Homo sapiens: one gene and its partners. The protein of the gene in region 6 interacts with the protein of the main gene of each other region in a pairwise test. Each region holds a gene or a part of one and is shown on either strand. Other genes may lie near its edges. The genes, in order: ZDHHC17, MAPK6, DISC1, PPL, MECOM, KNSTRN and MPHOSPH6.

Evidence for each region.
Region 1: the proteins of KNSTRN (region 6) and ZDHHC17 interact in a two-hybrid assay, tested with the Homo sapiens proteins (one large-scale study listed by BioGRID and IntAct).
Region 2: the proteins of KNSTRN (region 6) and MAPK6 interact in a two-hybrid assay, tested with the Homo sapiens proteins (one large-scale study listed by BioGRID and IntAct).
Region 3: the proteins of KNSTRN (region 6) and DISC1 interact in a two-hybrid assay, tested with the Homo sapiens proteins (one large-scale study listed by IntAct).
Region 4: the proteins of KNSTRN (region 6) and PPL interact in binary tests that used the Homo sapiens proteins (3 or more experiments, as listed by UniProt).
Region 5: the proteins of KNSTRN (region 6) and MECOM interact in a two-hybrid assay, tested with the Homo sapiens proteins (one study listed by BioGRID).
Region 7: the proteins of KNSTRN (region 6) and MPHOSPH6 interact in a two-hybrid assay, tested with the Homo sapiens proteins (one large-scale study listed by IntAct).

The regions. Positions count from the first base shown.
Region 1 is NC_000012.12:76,812,615-76,816,114, reverse strand, and holds part of ZDHHC17 (palmitoyltransferase ZDHHC17), read right to left. Parts: intron 970-3,500; coding exon 905-969; intron 259-904; coding exon 96-258; intron 1-95. UniProt on the Homo sapiens protein: Palmitoyltransferase that catalyzes the addition of palmitate onto various protein substrates and is involved in a variety of cellular processes.
Region 2 is NC_000015.10:52,022,219-52,025,718, reverse strand, and holds part of MAPK6 (mitogen-activated protein kinase 6), read right to left. Parts: intron 1-3,500. UniProt on the Homo sapiens protein: Atypical MAPK protein. Phosphorylates microtubule-associated protein 2 (MAP2) and MAPKAPK5.
Region 3 is NC_000001.11:231,629,790-231,633,289, reverse strand, and holds part of DISC1 (disrupted in schizophrenia 1 protein), read right to left. Parts: intron 1-3,500. UniProt on the Homo sapiens protein: Involved in the regulation of multiple aspects of embryonic and adult neurogenesis. Required for neural progenitor proliferation in the ventrical/subventrical zone during embryonic brain development and in the adult dentate gyrus of the hippocampus.
Region 4 is NC_000016.10:4,927,149-4,930,648, forward strand, and holds part of PPL (periplakin), read right to left. Parts: intron 1-3,500. UniProt on the Homo sapiens protein: Component of the cornified envelope of keratinocytes. May link the cornified envelope to desmosomes and intermediate filaments. May act as a localization signal in PKB/AKT-mediated signaling.
Region 5 is NC_000003.12:169,090,213-169,093,712, forward strand, and holds part of MECOM (histone-lysine N-methyltransferase MECOM), read right to left. Parts: intron 2,891-3,500; coding exon 2,746-2,890; intron 25-2,745; coding exon 1-24.
Region 6 is NC_000015.10:40,389,221-40,392,720, reverse strand, and holds part of KNSTRN (small kinetochore-associated protein), read right to left. Parts: intron 3,216-3,500; coding exon 3,110-3,215; intron 2,886-3,109; coding exon 2,792-2,885; intron 1,229-2,791; coding exon 1,167-1,228; intron 773-1,166; coding exon 698-772; intron 1-697. UniProt on the Homo sapiens protein: Essential component of the mitotic spindle required for faithful chromosome segregation and progression into anaphase.
Region 7 is NC_000016.10:82,150,444-82,153,224, reverse strand, and holds part of MPHOSPH6 (M-phase phosphoprotein 6), read left to right. Parts: intron 1-1,710; coding exon 1,711-1,801; intron 1,802-2,781. UniProt on the Homo sapiens protein: RNA-binding protein that associates with the RNA exosome complex. Involved in the 3'-processing of the 7S pre-RNA to the mature 5.8S rRNA and play a role in recruiting the RNA exosome complex to pre-rRNA; this function may include C1D.

The DNA of each region.
Region 1 (3,500 bases), on a different chromosome or scaffold from region 6:
TTTCAACTCTGACAGTCTATGAAAAACTTGTTTTATTACAGAATTCACATATTAGCCACATTTCATACAGTATTATCAATATAGAATATTTTTACCTTGATATTCTGGGCATCAACATTAGCTCCAGCTTCCAGAAGAAGGCTAATGACTGTGGTATTCCCTGCTAGCACTGCCCAATGCAGAGCAGTGTTTTTGTGATACTTGTCACCAAGGTTAACTGAAACATTGAATGTTAAAAGCAATCTAGTTGGATCCACACTGAAAAGGAAAAAAAAAAAAAACAAACAACAACAACAACCCTAATTTCAATTATAGAAATCATTACAAATACTAAACTGATTATGCTTACAGTAGCATTCCATTTTGGAACACTTCTAACCTACTCAACAACTTTAAAATCAATAATGAGACAATATTCTAATATGAAGTATTAAGTATGTATGACACCATATAAAATAATATATTAATAGTTTCAGGGGATAAGCAACTTGGTCCTGATATTTTCTATTTTTGACCTAGAAATGGCATTAATACTTATACAATTCAAGAATAACACTTTTTAAAATTTAAATTTGGAGTCTTCCAAAAGTGATCTAAGACAACTTACTAATTAATAAATTTGTCAATATGTAAATCACATGAAAAAATTAATTAATTTTTAAAAAAAGATAACTTCTTTTCTTAGATATTGTTAAAAGAGAAACAGATTAAGGAAGCTCTAATCAGTGAGGGAGAGACAGCACAGAGATACCAGAACATCCAAAATGGTAATTTATATATACTATAGTCATAATAAAAACTGTAAATATTAGTGAGTATAGTATTAACTGCTTTTTCCTCTCTCTTACTTCATATTGTATTATGCTGAAATGGCCTAAATAAGTTTTTTATAGTCATTACATACCTATGTGTTCTATATGCTGCCCACATTAAAGGCGTCATTCCATTCTGATCCATCATATCTACATCCTGATAAAGTAAAAAGAAAAAAAGTCAGACAGTTAAATTATAAGTTCCTAACCAAATTTGCTTGGAAAAATCTAATCTATATATAAAAGGAGAAGCGAATATAATACTACTCAATCAAGGATAATGTATGAAACTTTCTTTCTTAACTTTAAAATGAAACTCTTGTCACTATATACTCTAGTGAACATATATCATGCTTTTACATTATTCCCTTTTAAGATGTTTTAATCAGCCTTTCAATGTTTCACATTTAAAATTCTTAACCTATTCTGACCTTTCAACCACAAAGGATAGGTTAAGTGATTAAGTTTCTGAAAAACTTGTTTATACTAATGCATAAGAGAGAACGACAAAACTGTTTATTCCTAGGCATTTCAAAACAAAAAATAAAAAGAACTGACATTTTAATATACTCAGTTTTTACTGTTACACATGTACATTTTTAGAGTTAAATGATTCTGCAGTTTGTGTGGAAAAAGCAACACACTAAAGCAATCCCCCTGCCTTACTTCCCACCATTTTCACCATTTTTTGGCTCATTATTTTTATATTTACCTCCATATCTTTAAATAAGATGTTTGAATTGCTACTTCTTGATTTTTCAGTTTCAGGCATTATTCTGAAATTCCTTGGTACAAAAAATCTGAATTTTTCTCTTTCCTCTCTGCTACATCACAAATGCACGCCTTTCCTATTCTTTCCTCTCAAGAGATCTATTGTAATTCTGGTTCATATAAACATTTAATACTTGATATGTATTATTATAAATATGCATAAATACTATTCCCAGCCAAACCATGTAATAAACCACTATTTTTCCTCTTCTACTCAATTTTTTGCTTTCCCTGGCACCATCTTTCCCCCACTACTACTTAGTTTTTAGCAAATTATAACTAAAACTTCCACCTATTAAACCGAAACTCTTTCCTAGTTATCTAATTCTCCTTGCGCAAGACTTTCTGATGTATCAGGGACTCTTATCAGTTTCAATGCTCTGAAACTACCTTTCCTAACCCACTCCATTCTGAACTGATTATCCTCTATGCCTGAAATGTGTGTCTCATTAACCTGGAGTACTTTGAAAATAAAAATCATCTCAAATCCATCTTCGTATTCTCAGTGCCCAGCAGAGTAGATGATCGAAAACCATTTATTAAAGGAAAAGACATGCTTATCTATCTACTTTTCTAGGCTTGGCTTTAGAATAAGACATGGTTTTGACTTCCTAGCTCCATCATATAATTGCTATGAGATTGTAGGCTAAATTACTTTAATTCTTAGTCTTAGCTTCCTCATTAAAAAATGTGAAATACAAATAACTTCATAAGACTTCTGTGAAGATTAAATAATGTGTGCAAAGCATCTAGTCAACAGCTGAGAACATAATGGATATTCAATAAATATTAAGTTTCTTCTTCTTCTCTACCCCATCTCCCATTCCTGAATTACATTAAGCAAGCAGTTCTAATCCAAGTTGTGTTACCTAATTCACCAATCAGTGGAGAGAGCAGAGAGTTACAGTAAGCACACTGTAAAACACTATCTCTATGCATCAGTTCTCTGTGAGCCACTGTTAGCAATAGGAATATGTCTCAAATGTGAACATTATCTAAGCATATTGAAGAAAAAAAATCTGAGAACCACTACATTAGATAAGTAAAGCATTTCCTTGGATGTCATTAACTTAGTCACTCACCATGCATACTGTCATAGAATGTTATGCCTTATCCATTACAAATCCATTTCTGGATTTACTTTAATAGTGTTGTCAGGAATATCTTCTGCAACCTCACTCAACATTTCCAATATGCAAGTACATTTTTTAAAATAATCCTGTGGCTTAAAAAAAATATGTTTTCTGAAGAAACAACAAACTTCCTTATTTCTTATATGAGAAGTAACTATTGTGACTTCTTTTACTCCTAATTTCCGTAGGACCTCAACCAAATTTCAGGTCTAATTAAAGCAAGCATGTAAATTCTTATGTTTAAGTTTCTCCTTCTTCTTAGTTGTGTTTTCATATCCTTTTTAAAAAATGATAGTATTAAAAATATCAATAAATAAAAAAATGTAAAATCATGGCACATCTCTAGAGTACTAAAAGAAAAATGAAATTCAACCTTTTCTCTCTTTGGGTCGGGATTTAAAACTTGGTACTTCTTTTCCAAGTTCAGCCTGGACGTATGGGTATTCTCTATTAGGAAGAATTAACAAGCCCAGATCAAAAGCTTATGGGAATTCCATGATCAACAGGGCTCCATAACTTAGCATTTTCCCCTTTTTCTCCTGAAAATCATCCAAAAGAATTGGTAGTGAGCACTAAATATATTTAACAATATAACTAAAACAAAACGATTGTGAAGAATAGAATGACAAAACTGAATGGAAATGTTATATACCCTGACAATGTAAAATTGATATAATTAACAACAAAATGGGAAAATGGAAAAAGGTTGAAATGAAAATATGCTGAGAGCCTCATCTATAGTAGCCATGAATCAAAGAAAACTATCTAAAGCTGAAAAATCAAG
Region 2 (3,500 bases), about 12 Mb from region 6:
TTCATGCCATTCTCCTGCCTCAGCCTCCCAAGCAGCTGGGACTACAGGCGCCCGCCACCCGGCTAATTTTTTGTATTTTTAGTAGAGACAGGGTTTCACCATGTTAGCTAGGATGGTCTCGATCTCCTGACCTCGTGATCCGCCCGCCTCAGCCTCCCAAAGTGCTGGCATTACAGGCGTGAGCCACGGCGCCCAGCCCCAACTATTTAAAGGAATTAAAATTAAATAAAAAATTCAATTCCTCAAGTGCACTACTTGCTCGTCAAGTATTCAACAGTCACACATGGCCAATGGCTACCTCACTGGATAGCACAGAACACTTCTATCATCATAGAAAGTTCAACTGGGCAGTGATTAGCTTCCAAATTTTCCATTTGACTTTTTTCAGAAGGGCCAGTGGAAAGAGCAACTCAGAAGACTAACGAGCTGAGCAACCATGTATGCATCATTTTAATTTTTATTTATTTACGTATTTTTTGAGACAGGGTCTCTTGCTGTTGCCCAGGCTGGAACGCTGCGGTGCGATCACGGCTCACTGCAGCCTCAACCTCCTGGGCTCAAGCAATCCTCTCATCTCAGCCTCATAAGTAGCTGGGACTAAAGGTGTGCACCACTACAACAGGCTAATTTTATTTTATTTTGTAGAGACAGGGTCTCACTATGTTGCCCAGGTGTATGCATCGTTTAGCAGTGCTTCTCAAACTGAATGCGCACTGAATGACTTGAAAATCTTGTTAAAATGCAGGTTCTTCCCAGCACGTTAGGAGGCCAGGAGTTTGAGACGAGCATGGGCAACACAGTGAGACTCCAATTCTTAAAAAAAAAAAAAAAAAAAAAAAAGGCAGTGTATGATGGCACATGCCTGTAGTCCCAGCTACTGAGGTGAGAGGATTACTTGAGTCCAGGAGTTCCAGGTGGCAGTGCGTTATGATCACACCACTACACTCCAATCCAAACTGGGCAACAGGGCAAGATTGTGCCTCTTATTTACAAAAAAAGAAGGCCGGGCGCGGTGGCTCATACCTGTAATCCCAGCACTTTGGGAGTGCTGGGCGGGCGGGCGGATCCGAGGCGGGCGGATCACAAGGTCAGGAAATCGAGACCATCCTGGCTAACACGGTGAAACCCCGTCTCTACTAAAAACACAAAAAATTAGCCAGGCGCGGTGGCAGCAGCTGTAGTCCCAGCTACTCAGGAGGCTGAGGCAAGAGAATGGCGTGAACCCAGGAGGCGGAGCTTGCAGTGAGCCAAGATCGTGCCACTGCACTCTAGCCTGGGTGACAGAGTGAGACTCCGTCTCCAAAAAAAAAAAAAAAGAAAAAGAAAAAGTAGATTCTAAGATTCTAATTCAGTAGGACCGTAGGACTGAGATGAAGTCAAGATTCTAACGTCTATCAAGTTCCCAGGTGATGCTAATACTGTTGGTCCAGAAATCACACTTTCAGTACCAAGATCTTAGATCTCTTCAGGCCTTGGTTTCCTTAGCTGTCAAACGATGTACATGAATGAAGCAAGATAATGCCCATGACCCCTCCAAAACACTAATATTTTAAAGTTTTATGATTGTACAGAATTAAATGCATACAGATTTGCACTTTCTGCAGAGGCAGACTTTTCTGAGGTAAATGCTAGGATTCTAAAAAACAAGTTTTATGATACCATTTTTTTCTGTGAAAAAAATACCAAATTTAACGAAAATCAATGGGAAATTGTATTTGCTATACAAACATTCAATCTCTGAACAATTTTTTAGAAATGGACTTAGAAGACTGACATGTATAAAAGACAAAACTTTTAGAACTCTATTGGCTGGGCGCGGTGGCTCATGCCCGTAATCCCAGCACTTTGGGAGGCCCAGGCAGGCGGATCACAAGGTCAGGAGATGAGACCATCCTGGCCAACATAATGAAACCCTGTCTGTACTAAAAAAAATACAAAAATTAGCTGGTCATGGTGGTGCGCACCTGTAGTCCCAGCTACTCGGGAGGCTGAAGCTGAAGAATCGCTTGAACCTAGGAGGTGGAGGTTGCAGTGAGCCGAGATGGCGCGACTGCGCTCCAGCCTGGCAACAGAGGGAGACAGCGTCTCAAAAACAAAAAACAAACAAACAAAAAAACTCTTAGAGAGACACACATTATTTTCCAAATACGCAGTTCATGGAGGTGAAAAAACCAATCAATGCTGGACTAGGCCCAAATCACTGTCACCTTAAAAGCATCAGCTTCACATGAAAGCAACCCCTGGAAAATGCCATTAACTACAGTAACATTGGAGTTGTTTTTGTGAAGTCTCAGTCAAGGCTCTCAGCAATAAAAATGAGCAAAATTCCCACACCACTGGCAGGTTGTAGTGTAATGTTCAACAGCCCACAAAACAGGCTGAAGGAACTAATGAAGGCAGCCAACAATGCCACACAGAATTTACTTCTGAGGCATCTTCTTTCCATTTTAACAGGGGACCTAGAGTAACACAAGGTTCAAATGTAACAAAGAACTGGATAGCAGTGGTAAGAAGGCTCAGCATTTCATAAAGCAGTACCTTGGAGACAGGAAGCAGGCTAAGATATCCAGTTATTTTGTTTGTTTTTCGGTTTTTTTTTTTTTTTTTTTTTTGAGACGGAGTCTCGCTCTGTCACCCAGGCTGGAGTGCACTGGCACAATCTCGGCTCACTGCAACCTCTGCCTCCCGGGTTCAAGCGATTCTCCTGCCTCAGCCTCCTGAGTAGCTGGGATTACAGGCACGTGCCACCACACCCAGCTAATTTTTGTATTTTATTAGAGACGGGGTTTCACCATGTTGGCCAGGATGGTCTCGATTTCCTGACCTCGTGATCTGCCTCCTCAGCCTCCCAAAGTGCTGGGATTACAAGCGTTAGCCACTGCCCCCGGCCTCAGTTTGTTTTTAAACTCTGAATTATGCACTACAGCTAATTACCTATATTTGAAAACAATGCCGAAAATACGTTAAACCTCTAAGTAATGTGATGCTCTGAAAATTTTCAATACTTTTATATTTGTATTTTTATGTTTCCTCTAGTAGGAAATTTTTTTTAAGTTTGAATTAAACTTTGTAAAAAAAAAACCTCTAGGTATAAATCATGCAATACTCTTCCAAAATAGTTCCAAAAATTTAATTCACATTAACAATACATTTTATGGGCTGGGAGCAGGGGCTCACACCTGTAATCCCAACACTCTGGAAGGCTGAGGCAGGCAGATTGCTTGAGCCCAGGAGTTCAAGAACAGCCTGGGCAACACTGTGAACATTCATCTCTACAAAAAATACGAAAAACTAGCCAGGCATGGTCGCACACAGCTGTAGTCCCAGCTCCTCCGGAGGCTGAGGCAGGAAGATCACCTGAGCCCGGGAAGTAGAGGTTGCAGTGAACAGTGATCGCACCACTACACTCCAGCCAGGGTGACAGAGCAAGACCCTGTCTCACAAAAACAACAAACACTTTACTGTCCACAAACTCCTCAAATCCCTTTGGAAAAATAAAC
Region 3 (3,500 bases), on a different chromosome or scaffold from region 6:
AACTATTTTTAGCAAGTTTTTAATTTAGTCAAAAAGTGATACCTTTCTAATGTGTGGCTGTCATGCTAATTCTAATTCTGAACCAAGTAGCCACTCAATAAACGTTGAATGAATAAATAATGAATTCATGAACAAATAGATTCTTAAGGATCCATTGACATTTAGTGTAACAATAGTAATTACTTGAAAATCTACGTGGTTTTTTGTTTGTTTGTTTTTTTGACGGAGTCTCTCTCTGTAGCCCAGGCTGGAGTGCAGTGACATGATCTTGGCTCACTGCAACCTCTGCCTCCCAGGTTCAAGCGATTCTCCAGCCTCAGCCTCCCAAGTAGCTGGGATTACAGGCACACGCCACCATGCTCAGCTGATTTTTGTATTTTAAGTAGAGATGGGTTTCTGCCATGTTGGCCAGGATGGTCTCGAACTCCTGACCTCAGGTCATCTGCCCACCTTGGCCTCCCAAACTGCTGGAATTACAGGCATGAGCCACTGCGCCTGGCTGAAAATCTAAGTTTTTAAGAGCCATCATAGCTCAAAAAAAAGGGATTCAGTTCAATTCATTTAATGTATCTTAAGCAGGGATGAATTATACAGAACTATGAAATGAAACACAACTTAATGAAAACAGTTCTAAGTAAAAGAAGAGGAGCCAGGTTCTAACAATCACTCTGCTGCTGTTTCTCACTTTTCTCACCTGTAAAAGAAGAAGGCCAGATTACATGATCTCTACTGCCACTTACAACATTCAATACTGTACAATAAATATATGATTTATCTTCAGAGATTGCCATTCCTCACCTCGAGGAGTTTACTGTCTTATTTGCATTTCTCTGAGAGTTCAAACTTTGAACTCTGAAAATAAACGGTAAATGTCCACCCATGACAGGCAAATGTTGTGGCTTAACAGGTAGAATTTTATCCACATTTTTTTATGATGAGCAAGCACAAGGCCACGTGGCTGGAAAATTAACCTGAAGTTGACATGAGAAAAATAATGTGGGGCTACTTATTTCAATCACAGTCATGCATCACTTATTGACAGGGACACTTTCTGAGAAATGTGTCATTAGGTCATTTTGTCATGCAAACACCATAGAGTGTACTCACAAAAACCTAGATGGTATAGGCTATGACACACCTAAGCTATATTGTATAGCTACTGTTCCTAGGCTACAAACCTGTGCAGCATGTTACTGTACTGAATACTGTAGGCAGCCGTAACACAATGGTAAGTACTTTTCCATCTAAACATATCTAAACATAGACAAGGTACAGTAAAAATACACTATAAAAGATGAAAAATGGTACACCTCTATAGGAGGCTTATCATGCATGGAGCTTGCAGGACTGGAAGTTGCTCTGGGTGAGTCAGTGAGTGAGTGGTGAGTGCACGTGAGGGTTGAGGACATAATTTCATGCTACTGTATTTATAAACGCTGTACACTTAGGCTATACTAAATTCATTTAAATTTTTTTCTCAACAATAAATTATCTTTAGCGTACCATAACTTTTTTTACTTTATATATAATAATTTTTAAATTTTTTTAATTTTTTGACTTTTTTATAAAAACACAGCTTAAAACACAAATACATTGTGCAGCTGTACAAAAATATTTTTTCTTTATATCCTTATTATCCTATAAGCTCCTATTTTTAATTTTTATTTTTTTACTTTTCAAACTTTTTGTTAAAAACTAAGACACAAACACACACACTAGCCTGGGCCTACCCAGGGTCAGGATCATCACTATCCCTGCCTTCCACCTCCACACCTTGTCCCGTTGGAAGGCCTTCAAGGCAAAAACACGCATGGAGCCATCATCTCCTATGACAACAATGCCTTCTTCTGATACCTCCTGAAGGACCTGCCTGAGGCGGGTTTACAGTTAACTTTTTTTTACTAAGTAGAAGTACACAAAATAACATTAAAATGTATAGTAAATACTAGGCATTAGGAAATTGACAGCCCAGTATAATCTTATGGGACCACTCTCACATATGTGACATTGACAAAACGTCATTATGCGAGGCATGACTGCACTTATTTTGAGACTATGTCTCTGCATACATAGTTCTCAGTAGCATCATTTGTTAAATAAGGATGCCGACATCTTACCTGCCAGAACACAAGGAGTTTAGCCAACTGGTGTTTTGAAGCTTCATCTGACAATAAGTTCTGTGATTCTGTTTATAAGTCTGTGACGAGTGACCCGAGTGACTGGAGGGAGCCCCATAATGTCTAGCATCCATTTCTGAGTCATGACAAAAAGCCAAAGGGGAAATGGGGCAGGGAAAGGAAGCAGATACAGGACCAGTAGTCATATAAGGGGCTGTGCACACCATGTGAGCCCCTGCCTACCTTCTACAGCTAAATGTCAGTATTTCATTCATTGCCCAGCCACAGTTCTCCCTTCCTGCTTCTACTTGGTGTGAACATTTGAAAGCTCATTGCAAAGTCTTCGCTCAAGAGAAACAGCTGGTGAACTCTGGTTTTGAAAGAAAAAATGGATTCTGAACGGCTAAAGCATCTGGAATTTTAAAAATTACATGATTGTTGCACAGAAGTCATTCGCTAAGGAATTTTTACCACAAAGTCATTAAAGTTAGGAACTAACAACGGAAGACTCCTCGAGGCTAAAAGTCTTATATTACTAAACGGTGCTGACTGAAAAATGGCTCTTCACCGGTGGTTCCAGCTGTGCCAGGAGGGGACCCTCCTCAACCCAGGGTGGCTGCCAAGGGAATCTCTGGAAACAGTGGGCTCTGCTTGGATTCATGAGAACACAGCATATAAACTCAATTACCATCATTATTATCAAAAGAATGATTCTGGCCAGGTGCAATGGTTCACATCTGTAATCCTGGTACTTTGGGAGGTCGAGGCAGAAGTTGCTTGAGGCTCAAGGTCAATCTGGCCAAAATAAGGAGACCCCATCTTTTTTAATTAAAAAAAGAAAAAAAAAGAATGATTCTAATTCTGGTCTAATGACCCTAACCTAAAATATTACCTTTTTTTGTACTCAGAAACTTTGTGTGCTGGTCTTTAAATCTTGTTTAAAGGGCCCGGCGCAGTGGCTCATGCCTGTAATCCCAGCACTTTGGGAGGCTGAGGCGGGCAGATTACAAGGTCAGGAGATCGAGACCATGCTGATCAACATGGTGAAACCCTGTCTGTATTAAAAATACAAAAATTAGCTGGATGTGGTGGTGGGCGCCTGTAATCCCACTACTCGAGAGGCTGAGGCAGGAGAATCGCTTGAACCCAGGAGGCAGAGGTTGCAGTGAGCCGAGATCGTGCCACTGCACTCCAGCCTGGCGACAGAACGAGACTCCGTCTCAAAAAATATATATATTGTTTAAAGGTCACCATTGTACCCTCTCTTTGCTCTGAAGGTCCTGCATCAAACTTTAACCAAAACCACAATAAAATTCAAATATCAACAATTTAGTCTCTAATCCTTCTCCAATCAAAATTTTTAGATTTTAAAAAAAGAAAAAG
Region 4 (3,500 bases), on a different chromosome or scaffold from region 6:
CGGTGAGATTACAAAACACACACCTTCCCCAAGCTATATGCCATTTTATAAGACACACACACTTGAAACTAAATGATACAGGAAGGTTGAGAATAAAGAATGGAGAGTGACATACCAGGCAACTGATACTGAAGAGAGAAAGCACTGTCCATATATCTCAAAGACAAGAGGGAGCGAGGCAATCCATGTAACTATGTGGTTCCCAACAGCTGCACATCAAAAGAATGATGTCTGGACCCATGTCCATGGAGATTTTGACTTAACTGGTCTTGGAAAGGGCTCTGACATGCTGTTCAAAACTCCTCAGGTGATTCTAATGTACAGCCAGGGATGAGAACAAGGAACTGAACCACAGCAAGGTTTAAAAGAAGCAAGATGCCGAAGAATCCTAGATCTCTATAGGAAGGAAGCCCTGTGAGAAAGCAGTACACAGAATGTGCCCAATGAATACCAGATTGATTGGTCAATTGACTGATTCTCTCACTACTAGAAACTCCTGTGCTAATTAGACAGTAAATGTCCTCACACCCAGCTATTAATCCTGTGGAAATATATCCTAAGATGAGAAGGTTGCTGGTGTAGTAATTCCAGGTCTGTTTTTAAGGCCTAATCTGTTTCTGCCCAGGGAAGGCCGCCCTGCCTCCAGGCCTCTGATGGGGCCTAGGGTTCTGTGTCAGGTGAGTGCTTTTGGGCTCCTTTTACAAACATACAGAAGTTCAAGCTGCTTCAGGTAACACCAAGGCAGGTCTTGAAGACAGGGCAACACAGCAAGACCCTATTTCTACCAAAAATAAATAAATAAATAAAATTAGCTGGGCATGGTTGTGCATGCCTCTAGTCCTGGCTGCTCAGGAGGCTGAGGTGGGAGGATTCATAGCTCACTGCAGCTTTGAATTCCTAGACTCGGGGGATAAACAGGGCTCAAGCCAACTTTGGTGCCCCAAGGCATCAGGATGTCACTCTGGGTTCAGGACCACTGGAGAAAGAGCACCAGCCTCCTTTTTCATTTTTTGAGACAGAGTCTTGCTCTGTTATTCAGGCTGAAGTGCATTGCTGCACTTCACTCACTGCAGCCTTCAACTCTTGGGCTCAAACACAAAATATATTTTGTATTTTTAGTAGGGACAGGGTTTCACCATGTTGGCCAGGCTGGTCTCCAACACCTGACCTTAGGCCTCCCAGAGTGTTGGGATTACAGGCATGGGCCACTGTGCCCGGCCATCTCAGCAGTTCTTACCCAGACACTTTGAGAGGGCTGGCAGGGTGTCCTGGCCGCCCCGCCCATCCTTTCCTAGGCAGAGGGTTTTTGTCATGCTTTGTAAGATAAAACACACCAGAGCTGCTGGCTGAGCCTGCAAGGCCGCAGGGCTGTGGGAGAAATAGAACTTGCAGAATTTTTTGCTGCCCCCACTGCCTGGGCTAGGATTTCAGGCTGATACCTTTTAGGGTTTCAAATTCTCTGCCTTCGCCATGGCGATGGTTTGTTTCCCATCGAAGGGTGGGAAAGGATTCCAAGTTTGTACCACAAAGAAGAGACAGGGCTTCAACCCTGCTTCAATCTCAGATAAGAAACTCTATTTGGCTGGGAGCAGTGGCTCATGCCTGTAATCCCAGCACTTTAGGAAGCCGAGGCAGGTGGATCACCTGAGGTCAGGTGTTTGCGACCAGCCTGGCCAACATGGTGAAACCCCGTCTCTACTAAAAATACAAAATATAGCCAGGCGTGGTGGTGGGCGCCTGTAATCCCAGCTACTTGGGAGGCTGAGGCAGGAGAATCACTTGAACCCAGGAGGCAGAGAGGTTGCAGTGAGCTGAGATTGTGTCACTTCACTCCAGCCTGGGCAACAAAAGTGAAACTCTACCTTAAAAAAAAAAAAAAAAAAAAAAAAAAAAAAGATCTGCCGAGAGTCCTGGAGCGAGTCACTCAAACTCTCTGAGCCTCACTTGGAACGAGAGCTGAGGGTAGAATTTATCTCAGACAATGTAATAATCATAATTTAGGGTGATGGTTTTAAGCTAGCACCCAACCTCAAGGCCTTTCTGTGTTCATACCTTTCCCAGTTCTGGTCCCCTCCCCTCTCACTTCCTTGCAGAGACTCTCCATTTTTGTCTCCCCATCCAGAACCTGCCTGCTTGCCTTCCAGGACTGGGCCCCCTTTGCTTCCTGAGGTCCCTCTTCTTCCTCTCCCAGACCTTTTATTTTGCTATGGACTGGACTCTGAGACCCAGGACTCAGGGCTTGCCTGCAGGCTCTTCCCACGCTGTGCCCCCCGCCAGCTGTGCCCCACGCCAGCTCGCCTTCTCTACTCCACCCTTCACCTAAACTGGAAAACTCGTGATCTACTCAGACATGCAGAAAAGTACTGAAAAGAATCAGCCACGCATGTCCCCACCACCACGGTTTGGTTGATGTTTTCACAGTACCATCTTTGCTGCAGATTTTTCTAAAAAGGAAGAGAAATGTTATTGTTCATTATCCTTTCAGGCCCCTTCTTAGGAGTAGCAGAATTTTAGATTTACTGGTTCTTCCTAAGCCTGTTTTATTTTATTTATTTAGAGACAGGGTCTTGCTCTGTTGCCCAGGCTGGAGTGCAGTGGCACAATCACAGCTCACTGCAGCCTTGAATTCCTGGACTCAGGGATCCTCCCCTCTCAGCCTCCTGAGTAGCTAAGACTAGAGGCATGCACCACCATGCCCAGCTAATTTTTTTTTTTTTTTGGTAGAAATAGGGTCTCACTATGTTGCCCAGGCTCGTCTTCAACTCCTGGCCTCAAGTCATCCTCCCGCCTTGGCCTCCCAAAGCGCTAGGACAAGTGCGAACCACTGCACCTGGTTCCCTAAGCTTTCCAATACATAGACACATCTGCATTCAGGAAGAGTAAGTGGAATTGCTCTGTGTATGTTTCTAAAAATGTATATATGCAAGCATCATCTTTGCATCCTTCATCAACTTGCTTTGCTTGCTCACTGTCATGCCTTTTCGGGTCGTGGATACACACATCCCCGTCACCTTCTGTCAACTGCACTCTCTTTATCCTCTCATCTCCAACTGATCCCCGGGTTCGGCGTGGAGGACCTCTCCTGAAGAAGCCTGTGTGGCTGGGTCAGGGCCCTCCTTTATCTCACTATCACTCCGCATTGCTGCCAGCTGTGTACTCAGCCAACTCTCTGCTCACCGTCCTGCACGCAGGAGGTGACTGGATGGGGACAGGGCAGGGGGCAGCCTGCTCAGGCCTCGCACTCCTTTCCACTAGCTGGAACCCCTGCCCCATTCATCCCCACCTCCGGGCTCTGCTGGTCCTGGGGTGTGAAGCGCAGGGCAATGTATGCTCTCTTGAAATGCTGAGGGAAGGGGAGAATCTTAGCAGTCCCCCATGGCTTACTCTCATTCATTCATTCATTCAGCACGCGTGTAGCACCAGTGTCTGGGGGAAGGCAGCCACACAGCCACATGTGGCTACCCCGGAGTCACATAGCTGCTGAGATAAGAGCTACCAAG
Region 5 (3,500 bases), on a different chromosome or scaffold from region 6:
TCTTTAAAATGACTGCCATTCATTCTTTCAAAAGCATTAAAAAAAAAGTCCAATTGTTGGTTTCATTTTTAAAATTGTAATTTGTTCCTTTATTATGTCTTCCCAACAACAGTTTAGATTTTCAACACTTAACATCGGAAATGTTTTATTGTTTATGCTCTACGTCAACCATGAAAAAATAATGTGACTTCACAAATGGGAAGATAAAGAAAAAAATAATTGTATGATTGTTCAGATTATAAATGAAGCCTCTGGCAGAACCCGAAAAACAATCTTGGTCTCCCATTTCTTATCAGACTTTGCTTGATAATTGATATTGCTATATATATCATATAAAAAGGCACATAAGTATGTTCTCAGCACAATTTACCTAATTGCCATGTAAGTACCCACCATTTAAAATAATAGATTTCTGGAAAATTCATATCACTCATGGGCCGTAGCTACAATACACATGCCTAAAGTGACTCTAAAAGTCCAAAGACAATGTTAAAGTAGTTACCAAGAAACAACTGGTATTTACTGATACTAGATGACATTTGTGGTACATTCCACCTAACCACTCTACCCATATTTGGAAGTAATTGACAGCTCACTTATTTGTACTATTTTCAAATTATTTTTTACAGTCTGAATGTGAAATAGTTCCTTGTTTCTCAGGAAAACGCCAGGGTGGAAAAAGCTCAGGTATTACAATGTACCCCCATCACTTTCCCACATAACAAAAATGAGTATAATTTAATATTCAGATTTCCCAGGATTAAAAAATAAATAAAACAATCTTGGATGTGACAAACACACATAGTAAAAATCCATTTGACCAGAAAAAGTCATATCATTATTAAGCTTTTAATAAAAACAATCGCTTAACCTCTTTTATCAAAGAATGGTGAAAACATCTTTTGCACAGACATAAATTAGTTTCCAAACACACTGCCAACTTGCTTGCATGAGTGGATTAAAATTTTTATTTAAAAAAAAGAAAGAAAAAGTAAAAGAACAAAAAGAGTGCATGGATGAAAATCAAAAGTAACAAAAGCCAACATAATTAAGAAAATCTATTTGTTAATTAAGTTTTCAAATGTGGCAATTTACAGAGAATAAATTATTCATCAAAAGTAGCCTGGTAGGAGTTCAGGGGAAAAACTTAGATGACTCAACCTTCTTATTTCTGTGCTGTTTAGACATGCTGAAGCCAGATGTTGCAACTATACAGGCTCACAAATCGCCAATTAAAGGCTAGAAAATTTGAATAGGCATCTCAGAACCCAAATGGTGTGTTTTGTTCAACAGTTCTTATTTGCATCAAGTAAATATCATTATCAAAGTATAAGATCGTCACTGTTTCTTGCTTGTTCTTGCTACTTTGTCCTTCTGATCATCTGCTTCCTCTCTCCCTTTCACAAACAGACAGACAGACACGCACACACACACACAAATGGGCAAGTAAAGGGAAAGGTACATCCAACTGCACACTGGTGTAGTTATCAGACTTCTCAGAGACTGGAAGGGTCTTTTTTCTTGTTTTTCTTTGATACACTTTTATACAAGTTGAAAAACAGAAGTGGTCATTTTTTTTGTTATTTTAGTAAAAAATGTTTATTTGATGTTTGCCTTGAAAAAATTACATAAAATAATTAATTTTGACTTTTGATAACATCAAAAACAGAGGACACTAATCCAATAATACTTGTATGATGAAAAATAATGGAACTTTTAACTAATTTCATGTTATTTTGAAATTTACAATGTAGCATCTGAATTTAATAGGTCACTATATAGTCGTGTTCAGAAAAGTCTACTTCTCAACAATAGATATTTAATTATAGCTTACAGATAAGAAAAATTAAATCCAGTAGTTTTGGTGAAATAGTGTTTCATTAACTTCATATGCAATGTGAAGTGCTGGGTAACTGTTAAGTATTATCATTAACAGCATTAAAAGCTTTTTTAAATGAATTAAGCTATTCATGCTTAATGTTGGTGATGATAAAAGGGAGCCAGTGCATCAGGGCAGTAAAAACAAGGATGTTCATACCCACTGAAACAAACAGACCAGAATTAAATGAGTAGTCACTTAAGAGGACATAAAGTAGCAATAGAATCTTAAGAAGACTATAAAAGCTTCTATGTAAAATATATTTGGGGGAAACTCCATGGGTATTTCATATATAAATGCATACATACATATGTACTATAATATGTATATTACATATATACAGAATATACATATATGTATTTATGTATAATACAGGTATATAGAATCATATATTACCTGTAATATATATAATTTATGATGTATAATAGTAGCCACTATTGATCAGTGATTCAACTGAATCCCTGTGACGGCTTTCTCTTCTACTTCTGAAATTTTGATAACAGATTCTATTCAGCTATCAGATAGCTAAATCCTGGTAAAATTATGGGCTCTGGAACCAGAGAGCTCAGGTTGAATCCCATTGATTACTTATGTGACCTCTGACACAATGGTTTAAGCTTCAATGTCTCCATTCCTTCACTGCTAAAATTATAGTGGCTATCTCATAGGGTTATGATGAAATTAAATTAATTAACACATGTAAAATGCTTGGAAGCATTTAATGTGGTATTTAATATGTACTAAATATATACCAGTCTTTGGTGACTGAAGTAATAGTAGTGCCACAAAAGTGAGCATAGCAAGTATATTTTAAAACATGTTCATTTCAGTCGTCACAGAGTTTAAAAAGTAAAAGACAGCTTTACCTCTCCTCCACATTCCTGGGAGATTGGCTGCCATGGTTGCTGTTCCCAATGAAATTTCGAATTTCTGTGAAGTAAGCATCTTCTTTGTCATCCAGAATCGCACCTGTACTTTCCAGTTCAGAATGAGGCGACGATGTTGCTGTACCTGTGTGGAGCAGAAAGCCTTTTATGACAAAGATTATTGTTTATCTAGCAACTTATTTGGAAACTCACTCCTTATGAATTTGATCAGTGCTGTTTCTTAAAACATGCCCTATGAATATTAATAATAATAACTTTAGAAAGTCAAAGTCTCCCCAGTTTACCATAATACACATGCCCATGACGGTCCTTTGGGAATATATTGAACCACTGAAATCATGAAGTACAGTCTCGCAAAGAAGGTGCTTCTCTCACTAGCTTTTCCTTACCTCTATTGTGACATGAGAATATTTGTATTCACATAATGAGAATTTAGAGTGAGACAAATTATGAACAAGTTTTAAATAGATTCTGCCAAGAGACACTCTATATGAAGTCCTGGTTGCAGTCAACATGCCTTTTTATTTATTTATTTATTTTTTGGCTACTATGCTAAAGCATATAACAAAATACAGTTTAAAGGCACACTGAAAATTCTGCATCCTGGTTTGCTGGGCGAAGCTGTGAGTTGACTCAGAACACTCCAGTCCAGGGGTTGGTGCAGTATTAAAAGGACAATATTAGATATGCTGATTACAGGATGATCTTCCCCTTCCTTGCCTATGCACTGCAAG
Region 6 (3,500 bases):
GAAAATCGCTTGAACCCGGGAGGCGGAGGTTGCAGTGAGCCGAGATCACGCCATTGCACTCCAGCCTGGGGGACAACAGTGAGACTTTATCTCCTTGCCCTCCTGGGCCCAAGTGGTCTTCTTGCCTCAGCCTCCTGAGCAGCTGGGACTACAGGTATGTACCACCACGCCTGGCTATTTTCTAAATTTTATTTTGTAGAGATGGGGTCTTGTTATGTTTCCCAGGCTGGTCTCAAACTCCTGGCTTCAAGTAATCCTTCCACCTCAGCCTCCCAAAGTGCTGGGATTATAGGCGTGAGCCACCATGCCTGGCTGATTTCTTAGTTTTGACAAATGTACCAGGATAATGTAAGATGTTACTATTGGGGGTGGAGGAGGAAGTGCATCAAGAAGAATAGCTAATGGATGCTGGGCTCAATACCTAGGTGATGGGATGATCTGTGCAGCTAACCACCATGGCACACGTTTACCTGTGTAACAAGCCTACACACCCTGTACGTGTACCCCTGAACTTAAAAGTTGGAAAAAAAAAAACACGTTACTATCAGGGTAAATTTTCTGTATTATCTTTGTAACTTTCCTATAAATCTAAAATTATTTAGAAAGTTTATTAAAAATAAATAGAAAAACAGAAAAGACCCCACTATAAATCTACCTATCATGGTAGGAAATGGTCAGGGTGATGTCTGCCTCTCACCTGTAACTCCTCCATCTGCTTTTTGGCTGTTTCGTTAAAAAGCTTCAGCTCCTCTTGCAAAGTTTCTAACAGCAACTAAGAGGAAAGCACAATGTAGTAAACAAATCTTCATATAAAACCAGACTTGCATTAGATGATGGCTAACATCCTTTCCACACAGTTCTCAACAAAGGAGTCAGGAGAGAAATTTGATAAAGTATAGAACAGAAGAACGAGAAAGCTCTCTCTACAGGTTTACCTATTATGTGTTTTAAATTTTCAATTCAGACTCACTTATATTTGTAAGCACAAAGCTACCTTTCAAGTAAAATATGCTATTTTGAGTACACATCCCATTTCTCTTTTCTAGCATCACAGATAATCAAAGGCTGTTTCTTGGAGTTTATGGAATATATAGCAGAGACCTTCTTAGATTTACAGAGCCCCACAGTCACTCAGCCCTTGCGCCCTTTCACACCCATGCCCTCACCATAGAGTCCATGTGATCAGTAGTGGATTCTTGTCGTGATGCCAGGGTCTCACTGCCTAAAGCTGATGGATACAACAAAGTCAATCTCACTTAGGGAACTACACACCCTAAACAAAAGAAAATAAAAACCCTCCGTGGACAAGTACAGAAATATTCATGAGGGGAATTTCTCTTAAGTGTCTCATCCTGGACTTTCTCCTAAGTTTTCACCTTGGCAGGGTCACCCATATCTGCCCTGCAAAACTGTATTTTATCTCCTTTCAATCTAGGTTTTGATATGGCCAAAAATTCGGTATACTTTCTCCTTAGGTCAGTGGACAATTTGTCCAAAGGAAATGTATAGGTTGGATTTTTTTTGGTTTTGTTCACAATTCACAAAGCTATTTTTAAGAGCCTTTCAGGCCTTAAAAAATTATTACTTTCGGTAATATCACATGCATGTAATAAACTAAAATCATACAAAATATTTATGGTGTCGGATGTGGTGGTGCACACCTGTAGTCCCAGCTATTTGGGAGGATTGCTTGAGCCCAGGAGTTGGAGGCCAGCCTGGGCAACATAGCGAGATCCCATCTCAAAAAAATAAACAATTTTAAATTTAAAAACATATATATTTATGGTGACTATAAAGAATATCCTAGGCTGGGCATGGTAACTCATGTCTGTAAACCCAGCACTCTGGGAGGCCGAGACAGGCAGATCACTTGAGGTCAGGAGTTTGAGACCAGCCTGACCAACATGGCAAAACCCCATCTCTACTAAAAATACAAAAATTAGCTGGGTGTGGTGGTACACGCCTGTAATCCCAGCTACTCAGGAGGCTGAGGCAGGAGAATCACTTGAACCCAGGAGGAGGAGGTTTCAGTGAGCCGAAATCACACCTCTGCACTTCAGCTTGGGCAATGGAATGAGACTTCATCTCAAAAAAAAAAAAAGAATATCCTCAACTGTAACCTAAAGATTAACCAGTAACATTCAAAGTCAGTATTCCTTAATACAAAAAGGCCTGGGCCCCTTTCCTGGGCATTCTCTGGCTCTTTGACTCAGTCTGAGGCCCTCTTACAGTCTTTGGGCAATTCCTTCTTCTGCTCTCTTTGCTACAGATACTGCTTTCTGGGGGACAGGGTCAGAATAGTAGTCATATTTTAGTCACTGTAATTCTGATGATTAACCAGGTTTAAGAATGCTTGAAATAGTATTTTCTTTCTCTTCCCATTTGGGATTACTAGTATGCTTGAAAGGAAGAGCATGTTCAAACAAAATGTTCCTTTCAAGCACACTAGTAACTTTCCCAAATAGGAAGAGACAGAAAATGTTCTCCCTTGAAAGGAACAAAGTGTTTCTCATCTATTTGCAAGGTCATACCTGTTGGCACTAAATGAATGGCATAAAGTGTTCAGGTAAGAAAGAGATAACCCTCTCTCTATAATCATCTGAAATCCTATTGGCCAGGCAAAAATCAACATCACATGAAAACAAACAGAAGCTTTCCAAAATCTTTAGGGCTTTATGAAAGTAACCCCTGCACATACTGGGCCAGCTGATGCCATGCTGCCAAGATCAACCCCGGAAGGGGCACATGCACCAATTCCTTCAAAGGAGGCTAGCTGTGTGCTGTCTCTTACCTGGATCAAGGCCCTTGCTCTCCAAAATTGCCAAACAGTTGTCCCGAAACTTCTCCAGCAGCTCTACCTTCTGGGTCAGGTCCTTCAGCTCTCCCTATTGGAGCACAGCACAGACAGATCAGGAATTGTCCAACTCCCTAGGGGTGGTTGCCCTTTCTTGCCCTTGCTCTTGGACAGCCATAGCAAAAGCCTGGCTTTTTTTTTCTGCCCTTGGGCATCTGTGCATTAACAAGCTTGCTCATCCAAGGGGCCACCCATCAGGATTCCATGTGGATCGCCCAGTGGCAGCTGGTAACAGAGCTCTGGTGGGTCTCTTACCTGAGTTTCAGTCAACTTCTGGTGCAACTGCTTGTTGACGGCTTCTAACAGCTGGTTCTTGTCCTTGAGCTCTTCCTCTGATTTTTGCTTACTCAGTGGTTTGTAGCTGTAATAATAGTTGTACTTACATGAAAAGATAAAAGGGTTAACAGTATGGCCCACACCAGGTGCGGTAGCTCATGCCTGTAATCCCAGCACTTTGGGAGGCTGAGGCAGGCAGATCACCTGAGGTCGGGAAATCAAGACCAGCCTGACCAAGATAAGAGAAACCCTGTCTCTACTAAAATTACAAAAGATTAGTCAGGCGTGGTGGCGCATGCCTGTAATCCCAGGTATTTGGGAGGCTGAGGCAGGATAATCGCTTGAACCCAGGAGGCGGAGGTTGTGGTGA
Region 7 (2,781 bases), on a different chromosome or scaffold from region 6:
GATATAAATGTTTCATGTTTCATTCATTATTTGGCCCCTCTTTCTATAGACTGTAACCTCCAGGAGAGCAGAGGCTCCTTTTTTTTCTTTTTTTTTGGAGGTGAGTGTTTGACACTGTCACCCAGGCTGGAGTGCAGTGGCACAATCTTGACTCATTGCAACTTCCACTTCTGGGATGCGAGCAGTTCTCCTGCCTCAGCCACCTGAGTAACTGGGACTACAGGCATCCGCCACTGTGCCCAGCTGAGGCTCTTTTACTGGTGGCTGTTTCCGCAGTTTGATTTAATACACACAGTTTGGTTTAATAAGTGTTTGTTGCATAAGGGAATCTTTATGAGAATCAGAGCCTACTCCGGCAAACAAGCCTTAAAAGCCACATGTTTGCTTTCCTGCCATGCTTTAGGGTTTATGGCCAGGCTGGAGATAGATATGTCACCTTGGATTTACGGTCATGTGGTGGTGACTCAGCAGAGAAATTCTGCTGCAGACAGAAACATCCTGGTCCAGGGAACGCAACCTGCCCCAATGCCATCAGTGGTGTCGTGCTCAGCCCCGTCAGCAGCAACAGTGGTTTTCCTAGGGTCATTCTCTAGCATGATTTTGGTTCTGGTGCAACCACCTAGCGACCGTTATTTCTGCCCGTCTTCCAATTCTGCCCCTTCAGCCTTCCCGGTGATTCTGAGATGCCCAGTACAGCTGGCTCTTTGTGTCACAGATTTTGATATCTACAAGGGGTCCTGGAACCAGTCCCCCTTGGAAATGAAGAGCCTACAGTGTTCTTACAGTAAATTCCTTCTCTGCTGAAGTCATCCAGGGTCAGCCTTTGGTGTTTATAGCTAAGAGCTCTGACTGATAACACTGTTAAAGCTGCTCAAGCCTCTGATTTCCCACTACTTCTCCTGGATTTGTAATAAGAATTTGGTGGGGGCCAAAATCTCAGAAGTCACCACTAAAGAACTTATCCATGTAACCAAAAAACCACCTGTTCCCCAAAAACTATTGAAATTTTTTGAAAAAAATCTGTGTATAAGTGCACCACACAGCTCAGACCTGTGTTCAAGAATCAACGTAAATGCAAGTACAAAAAAGACTGGAAGGAAATATTCAAATATACTAACAGTCCTTTTTATCCTCTTGGTAAGGAGCTTACAGGCAGTTTATAAACTCATACTTTATTCTGCTTTCCAAATTACGTTCCTTAAAATGTGCTGCTTTGATAATTAGAGAATGGAATTTTTGAAATCCCTGAGAACGAAAGACAAAATATGCCAGAAACTTTATTAAAATGATTTGGAGTAGTGTGTCACTGTATACTGTATGTGTATTTTTACATACATATTATTTCCTTTCTGAAAAAGAATTGGAAAAAAATATGGTGAGGGGATGTAAACACAAAAGAAACTTTGCTTCAACTTTGGCAAATTCAAGTTTATTGTCAATACTTTAGATCTTTATATTATGTAGATATTTATGCAAATTAAATGTGGTGTTTAAGAGAGGCTGTGCCTCTAGCTTGCTGCTCTTGTCTCCTAATGCCTTTGCTGACCAAATTAATCAGATTTTATTTTTAACCCTAAGTTAGAAATCTTACTGTATTTTTACTTCATTCTACTGAGAACCATAGGTTGATTATTTTTTTTATTCAAAGTGTTGGCTTTTGTTTGCTGTGCTTTATATATGGAGAAATGCTATTTTTATTTTCCCATTTAGGAGTTTCATAATAGAAGAGCAGAGTTTCTTACTATGTGAAGATCTTCTCTATGGAAGAATGTCATTCAGAGGATTTAATCCTGAGGTTGAGGTATTAAATATAATTGCTTCAAATTAAAAATTTTTCCAATTGAATTTTTTTCTGCTAATAATTGGGCTTAGGTGTTTCTCCACCAGGTACCATTTCTACTCATTATATAGAAAATAACAAGTCTTGAAATATCGCCATAGCTATTTAAAGAAATTGGAGGCATTGCAGTCTAGTTTTATGGTAGAGGTGAGTAGATAATTTCATATAGCAGTATACAGCCCTTGACAGAGCCACCATAAATATTAAAATTTCAAGTTGTGTCTTTTACAGGAACGTCAAGATTTTATTCATATCATGCTATTATGAAAAGTTATTTTCTGGCACCTATACATGTATTTTTTCTAACGGAAAAATGTTACTTTAGAATTATGTCATTTGACTTTTTAATGGACTGTTGTAATCCAAGCTTGTAAGTAGATTTTTAAATGAATCCTTTCGACAGTTTGTTTGAAAAATGAATATTTGCCTTATAACTGAGCTATTCATTTGAATTTTCCTGCTCCAGGATAGAGAAGCAGACCTTTATTTAACAAATATTCATTAGAACTCTGGCTCATATGTTAAAAGCCATCCTATCAAGTACTTGATGAACCAAATGGACACATGAGATATAAATCTTTAGTTTGGTAAATATTACTTGAAGCCAGTGTTTCTTGCCCTTGGCAGTGTTAACATTTGGGGCCAGATAATTCTTTGTGGTGGTGGCTTTCCTAAGAGAATGACGAACCACATCCCTGTCCTCTGTTCTCTACCAACTAAATATCAGTAGCACACACACACCCCACCCTCCTACCCAGCTGTGACAACCAAAAATGTTTCCAGACATTTTCACAGGTTCCCTGGTGGGGAAAATCATCCCCAGTTAAGAACCACTTCTCTAGGAGCCACAGTTAACTAAGCCAATTGCCAGAGTTTATTGAAAGATTCTAGGTTAGTTTTCCTTTTCTTTTTTGGCGGAGTGGGAGGAGGCATGTGTGATA